Linked DNA regions of Homo sapiens. The protein of the gene in region 1 purifies or fractionates together with the protein of each later gene. This does not show direct contact. Each region holds a gene or a part of one and is shown in the gene's direction. Other genes may lie near its edges.

The links. Proteins that work in one complex are often made in the same cells at the same time.
Region 2: the proteins of TNFRSF10A (region 1) and GFM2 purify together in Homo sapiens (affinity purification with mass spectrometry; one large-scale study listed by BioGRID and IntAct). This does not show direct contact.

The regions. Positions count from the first base shown.
Region 1 is NC_000008.11:23,204,603-23,208,102, reverse strand, and holds part of TNFRSF10A (tumor necrosis factor receptor superfamily member 10A), read left to right. Parts: intron 1-686; exon of another isoform or gene 687-1,195; intron 1,196-3,500. UniProt on the Homo sapiens protein: Receptor for the cytotoxic ligand TNFSF10/TRAIL. The adapter molecule FADD recruits caspase-8 to the activated receptor.
Region 2 is NC_000005.10:74,725,618-74,729,117, reverse strand, and holds part of GFM2 (ribosome-releasing factor 2, mitochondrial), read left to right. Parts: intron 1-2,991; coding exon 2,992-3,177; intron 3,178-3,362; coding exon 3,363-3,478; intron 3,479-3,500.

The DNA.
Region 1 (3,500 bases):
CTTTTGGTCAAAGCCATTCAACAAGTCTCTAGGAAGTTCCACACTTTCCCACATTTTCCTATCTTCGTCTGAGCCCTCCAAACTGTTCCAACCTCTGCCTGTTATGCAGTTCCAAAGTTGCTTCCATATTTTCAGGTATCTTTTCAGCAGCTCCCCACTCTACTGGTACCAATTTACTGTATTAGTTTTTTTTTTTTTTTTTCGTGCTGCTGATGAAGACATTCCCAAGACTGGGCAATTTACAAAGAAAGAGGTTTAATTGAACTTACAGTTCTACGTGGCTGGGGAAGTCTTACAATAATGATGGAAGGCAAGGAGGAGCAAGTCATGTCTTACATGGATGGCAGCAAGCAAAGAGAGCTTGTGCAGGAAAACTCCCCCTTATAATAACCATCAGATCTTATGAGACTTACTCATTATCATGAGAACTGCAAGGGAAAGACCTGCCCCACATGATTCAATTACCTCCCATTGGATCCCTCCCACAACTTACGGGAATTCAAGATGAGATTTGTGTGGGGACACAGCCAAATCATATCAGTAATATTGTCCTTATACAATGAATTGGAAAGTGCTCCTTCCTCTGCTGTCTTTAAAAAGGGTTTCTGAATAATTGGTATTAATTCTTCTTGAAATGGTTGGTATCATTCAGTGGTAAAGGCATCTGGGCCTCAACTTTGTTTTTCTGGTGAAAACATATACATGTATTTAGAATTAGCCAGCTGGATTCAGTTTAGATGATCCCAATTTTGTTGGCAACATCCAAGACATGGTAATCAGGAGCCAGTCGAACATATGCCTTCTTCTCTCCATCAGGCCTAATCAGGGTGTTGAACCTTGGCCACATAAACATCATAGAGCTTCTTCACAACCTGTTTGATCTGGTGCTTGTTGGTTTTAACATCTACAATGAACACAAGTGTGTTGTTGTCGTCTTCTATCTTCTTCATGGCATACTCAGTGGTCAGTGGAAGCTTGATGATAGCATAGTGGTCAAGCTTGTTTCTCCTGGGGGTGCTCTCCAGAGTCTCAGTATCTTGGGCCACCGGAAGGTGGGTGATGTATGGATATTCTTTTTTTCATGGCAGTGGACACCTTTCTACACTGCCTTCTTGGCCTTCAAAACCTTTGCATCGCTTCAGCTTTAGGAGGGGCAGGAGCTTCCTTCTTTGCTTTCAGTGCCATCTTGTGAAAACGACTTTTCTTTAGGAGTAGTTTTGATAACTAAGTCAAAATCTTTACTTGCTATATGTCTATTCACATTGTCTCTTTCATCTTGATTCAGTTTCAGTAGTTTGTGTCTTTCTAGGAATTTGCCCCTTTCATCCAAGGTACCTAATTTTTTGTTGTACAGGTTTCATAGTATTCTTTTATAATTTTTTTATTTCTATATAATCTGTAGTAATGTGCTCTCTCTCATTTCTGATTCTAATACAGTCATGCCTCAGTTAATGATGGGAACTCATTCTGACAAGTGCATCATTGTGCAAACATCATAGAGTGTACCTCCACAAACCTAGATGATATAGCCTACTGCATCCCTAGGCTATGTGATATAGCCTATTGCTCTTAGATTACAAACCTGTACTAGTAGACAATTGTAACACAATGATAAGTATTTGAGTTCCTAAACATGTGAACATAGAAAAGGCCCAATAAAAATATGGTATAAAAGGTTAAAAAAGATGATGTAGTTGTCTAGGGCACTTACCATGAATGGAGCTTGCAGGACTGGATCTTGTCTGGGTGAGTCAGTGAGTGGTGAGTGAATGTGAAGGCCTGGGACATTCCTGTACACTACTATGGACTTTATAAACACTGTACATTTAGGCTACACCAAATCTGTAAATTTTTTTTTCCTTCCTTCAATATTAACTTCGTGTAACTATTTTACTTTATAAACTTTTTAATTTTTAAAACTTTTTCACTCGTTTTAACACTTAGCTTAAAAAACAAAAACTGTACAGCTGTACAAAAAATGTTCTTTCTTTATATTCGTATTCTATAAACATTTTTGTATTTTTAACTTAAACTTTTTTTTACTTAAAAATTTTTTTGTTAAAAACTAAGATAGAAACACAGACATTGGCCGGGCGCAGTGGCTCACACCTGTAATCCCAGCACTTTGGGAGGCCAAGGCAGGCGGATCACGAGGTCAGGAGATCGAGACCATCCTGGCTAACACAGTGAAACCCTGTCTCTACTAAAAATACAAAAAATTAGCTGGGCATGGTGGCAGGCACCTGTAGTCCCAGCTACTCGGGAGGCTGAGGCTGAGGCAGGATAATCGCTTGAACCTGAGAGGCAGAGGTTGTAGTGAGCTGAGATTGCGCCACTGCACTCCAGCCTGGGTGACGGAGTGTGACTCCTTCTCAAAAAAAAAAAAAAAAAGAAACACAGACATTAACCTAGGTCTACACAAGGACAGGTTCATCAACATCACTGTCTTTCACCTCCACATCTTGTCGCGTTGGAGGATCTTCAGGGGCAGACACACATGGAGCTGTCAACTCCTATGTCCTCTGATAACAATGCCTTCTTCTGGAAAACTGCATGAGGCTGTTTTATAGTTACCTTTTTTATTTGTAAGTAGGAGTACACTCTAAAATAACATTACAATGTATAGTATCAAAAATACATAAATCAGTAAGTCATTTATTATCATTATCAAATATTATATATAGAACTTCATTATATGTGCTATACTTTTAACTGGCAGTGAAGTAGGTTTGTTTACATCAGCATTACCACAAACACCTGAGTAACGCATTGACTTATGACATTACTAAGCGATAGGAATTTTCCTCCTCCATTATAATATTATGGGACCACCGTCACATATGTGGTTCATTGTTGACCGAAACGTCATCATGCAGTGCGTGACTATAATTTGAGTCTTATTTTTTCCCTGTGCTAATTTTTTAACACAATTAGTTGTGCCAATATATCGATCTATTTAAAGAACTAGATTTTGAGTTCATTAATTTACTCTGTTGTTTTTCTGTTCTCCGTCTCATTAATTTCTGCTCTAATCTGTATTATTTTCTTCCTTCTGCTTGCTTTATCTATAGTTTGCTCTTCTTTTTCGAGTGTCTTAGAGTGGATTATTAGGTTATAGATTGAGATATTTCTTCTTCCTTAATAGACATTTAGGAAGGATATTTCTTCTTCCTTAATAGACAATTTCTCTGTAAACTTCAGCTACGTTAGCTGTATCCCATAGGTTTTGGTATGTTGTGTCTTCATTTTCATTCGTCTTATTTTCTGATTTCTCTTTTGATTTCTTTTTAGACCAGTTGGTTATTTAGGAGTGTGCTATTTAATTTTTATATAGCTGTGATGTTCCCCAGTTTCTTCCTGCTATTGATTTCTAATTTTATTCCATTGTGGTAGGAGAGTGTATTTTGTATTATCTCTATCCTTTTAAGTGTATTGAGGTTTATCTTATGGCCAAGCATATGGTTTATTTTGGAGAATGTTCTATGTGCACTTTAAAAGAA
Region 2 (3,500 bases), on another chromosome or scaffold:
CCAAGGAACCTGGAAAAAAGGGCTTCTCCAAAGATATCATCAACCCAGGCCTCAGATGCCACACATGGCCAGGTCTGGTGGCTCACGCCTGTAATCCCAGCACTTTGGGAAGCTGAGGTGGGCAGATCACGAAGTCTGGAGTTCGAGACCAGCCTGGCCAATATGGTGACCCCGTTTCTACTAAAAATACAAAAACTAGCTGGGAATGGTGGCGAGTGCCTATAATCCCAGCTACTCAGGAGGATGAGGCAGGAGAATTGCTTGAATCCCAGAGGCGAAGTTGCAGTGAGCTGAGATCGTGCCATTACACTCCAACCCAGGCAACAGAGTGAGACGCCATCTCAAAAAAAAAAAAAAAAAAAAAAAAAAGAAACCCCCACACATAAAAGAATATTAACTCATAATAAAATTAAATCAGAAAACCATGAGAAAAAGCACAATGAGCAAAAAGGCAATAGAAACAATAGGTAGTCATACCAGCAAAGGCTTCAGTTATTGGAATTATGAGATGTAGAATATAAAATACTATCTTTGAAGAAATAAGAGAGGCGATAGAAAGTACAGTTGACCCTTGAACAACATGGGTTTAAAGTATGTATGCAGGTACACTTACACATGGATTATTGTCCTGCCTTTGCCATCCCTCAGACAGCAAGCCAAACCCCTCCTTTTCTTACTCCTCAGGCTATTCAGTGCAAAGATGACGAGGATAAAGACCTTTATGATGTTCTACTTTTACTTAATAAATAGTAAATATATTTTCTCTTACGATTTTCTTGGTAACTTTTTTTTCTAGTTTATTGTAAAAATACAATATAAAATACATGTAACGTGTTAATTGACTGTTTATTTGTTGGTAAGTCTTCCTGTTAACAGTATTCTATAGTAGTTAAGTTTCAGGGGAGTCAAAATTTAGGCATGTATTTTTTACTGCATGGGGGTTTAGCACGCCTAGCCCCCACATTATTCAAGGGCCACTTGTGTTAGTAAGGAACAAGAAACGATCAAAAATAGGTGCGATGGGCATGATCTCACATATGTGGAACTTTTAAAAGTCTAACTTGTAGAAGAGTAGAATGATGGCTACCAGAGGCTGAGGATTGGAAAGCTGGGGAAAGGAGAGATGTTGATGAAGTGGGGTACGGAGTTTCAGCTGGACAGGAGAAATAGGTTCTCATGATCTGTTACACAGCACAGTGACTATAGTTAATAATTTATATTTTAAATCTCAGTACAAAGAAATAAGTTTTTTGACATGATAGATGTTAATTTGCCTGATTTTTATCATTCCACGATGTATACATGTATTGAAACATCACATACCCCATAAATATATACAATTATTTGTTAATTAAAAATGAAATAAAACATAAGAAAGGATAATGGAATATCATGCTATGTGTGAGAGAGGAAATGGTCAAAAAATGATGGTGAGGGGGTATATAAGGACACAGGAACCAGCTTGAAGAGACTCTGCTGGCCAAATCTGGATTAATTTGAATACCAAGTATAGACCATTGGGAAAAAATAGTTTCTAAGTTCATACTTATAATAATACATAGGTAAATAGGGAAGAAGAGGGAGGGGTCTTCCTCATAGTGGAATGCCAAGTGCTGACTGTTAGAAGTTGGGGAGTAGGGCTGGAGTCGGAAAATAGTGCAGACGACTCTCCCAAACACATAGAACAAAAAAGTTGCCGTATACATATGGCATAACAAATTTAAAATGAAGCAGAAGTAAACTATTGCTTAGAAATACATGCATATGTGATATAACACTAAAGAAAATAATGAGGATAACATATGATAGTGGTTGCTTCAGAAGGCATCTAAATATTGGTAATACTCTCTTTAGTAGTTTTAGGTTTCATGAATGCTCATTTTTAGCTTGTACATAAATATGTATATACTCATATATAAACGTATATTTATATATAAACATGTATATATTGAGACAATGTCTTGCTCTGTTGAGCAGGCTGGCATACAATGGCAAGATCTTAGCTGACTGTAGCCTTGAACTCCTGGGCTCCAGCAATCCTCCCGCCTCAGTCTCCCAAGTAGCTAGGACTACAGGTGTGCACTACCATACTCAGCTAATTTTTATTATTTTTTACAGAGACGGAGTCTTGCTATATTGCCCAGGCTAGTCTCAAATTCCTGGCCTCAAGTAATCCTCCCACTTTGGCTTCCCAAAGTGCTGGGTGGGATTACAGGTGTAAGCCACCACATCCAGCCTGTATAATTTTAAATAGAAAATGTTTCACAGTATAAAACGTAAGCATACAAAGGAATTATGAAGAATTATAGACTATAATTCTTAGTTTTGAATTTGGGCCATGAATCACTGCATTACATGGTCCCTCACATAAATATGGCATAGTTTTGTTTTAGTAAAATATTGGAGATTGGTAACAGACATAGTAAAATATTGGAGATTGTTGGTTTTTAGCAAATAAGAGATGCTGTTTTCAATCTTACCAAAAACACTTTACTGGTTTTTTGGGAAAGAAATTGTAAACAGTAAGTGCATAAAATATTGCTGGAAAAATACACAATATAAAACATTTTGTGGGTTGTCAGGATTTAAAGTCGTTTAATTTTCATTAGCTTACCTTTTATATTTGTAAAGGTTTTATCATTTAATTTTTTTAATATAAAAGTTTGTAACTAAGAGGATTTCAATCACCTACAAGACATTTTGAAAAGTTTAAAAGTATAATCTTCGTAACATGTGCCTCAACATATCTTAATGTTAAAACAATAGGTGATACAGAGCAGGTTTTTAACATTGATCAACACAGAAGCAGATGCTTTGTTGGTAGAGCTCTTTACTCTGATTTTTATACTGTATTTAGTGCCATTGTTAATATTCTCTCCCACTTTATCTTGTATGAGACCCTGAGCTTGTTGATGATAATTTTGCTGTTTATAGTACCTTGATACCTTTCCAGAATTAATCTCTGAGGTGCCATATTCAATTTGTTTACAGATACCTTAGATAGAACTTTAGGAGACAAAAGGCATCTTGTGACTGTAGAAGTGGAAGCAAGGCCAATTGAAACATCATCTGTTATGCCTGTGATTGAGTTTGAGTATGCTGAAAGTATCAATGAAGGCCTTTTGAAGGTCTCCCAAGAGGCCATTGAAAATGGAATTCACAGCGCATGTCTCCAAGGTAAGACACTCAAATGAGAGTAAGCATTAGTATCCCACTCAACCATTTAATCACTCCTTATATTACAGATTATTTCAGTCTTTTTCCTAACTTTGTTAGTGTTTTCTCCCTATTCCTTTGCACTTCTCAGTTACTTCTCACTTCACATCTAGCAGAGTATGATACAATTTTTTTCCCTTGTCTAGGACCATTGCTTGGATCCCCAATTCAGGATGTAGCAATTACTTTACATTCCCTGACAATTCATCCTGGCACCTCCACAACTATGATTTCTGCCTGTGTCTCAAGATGCGTGCAAAAGGTATAGAACTATCCTAATCCTT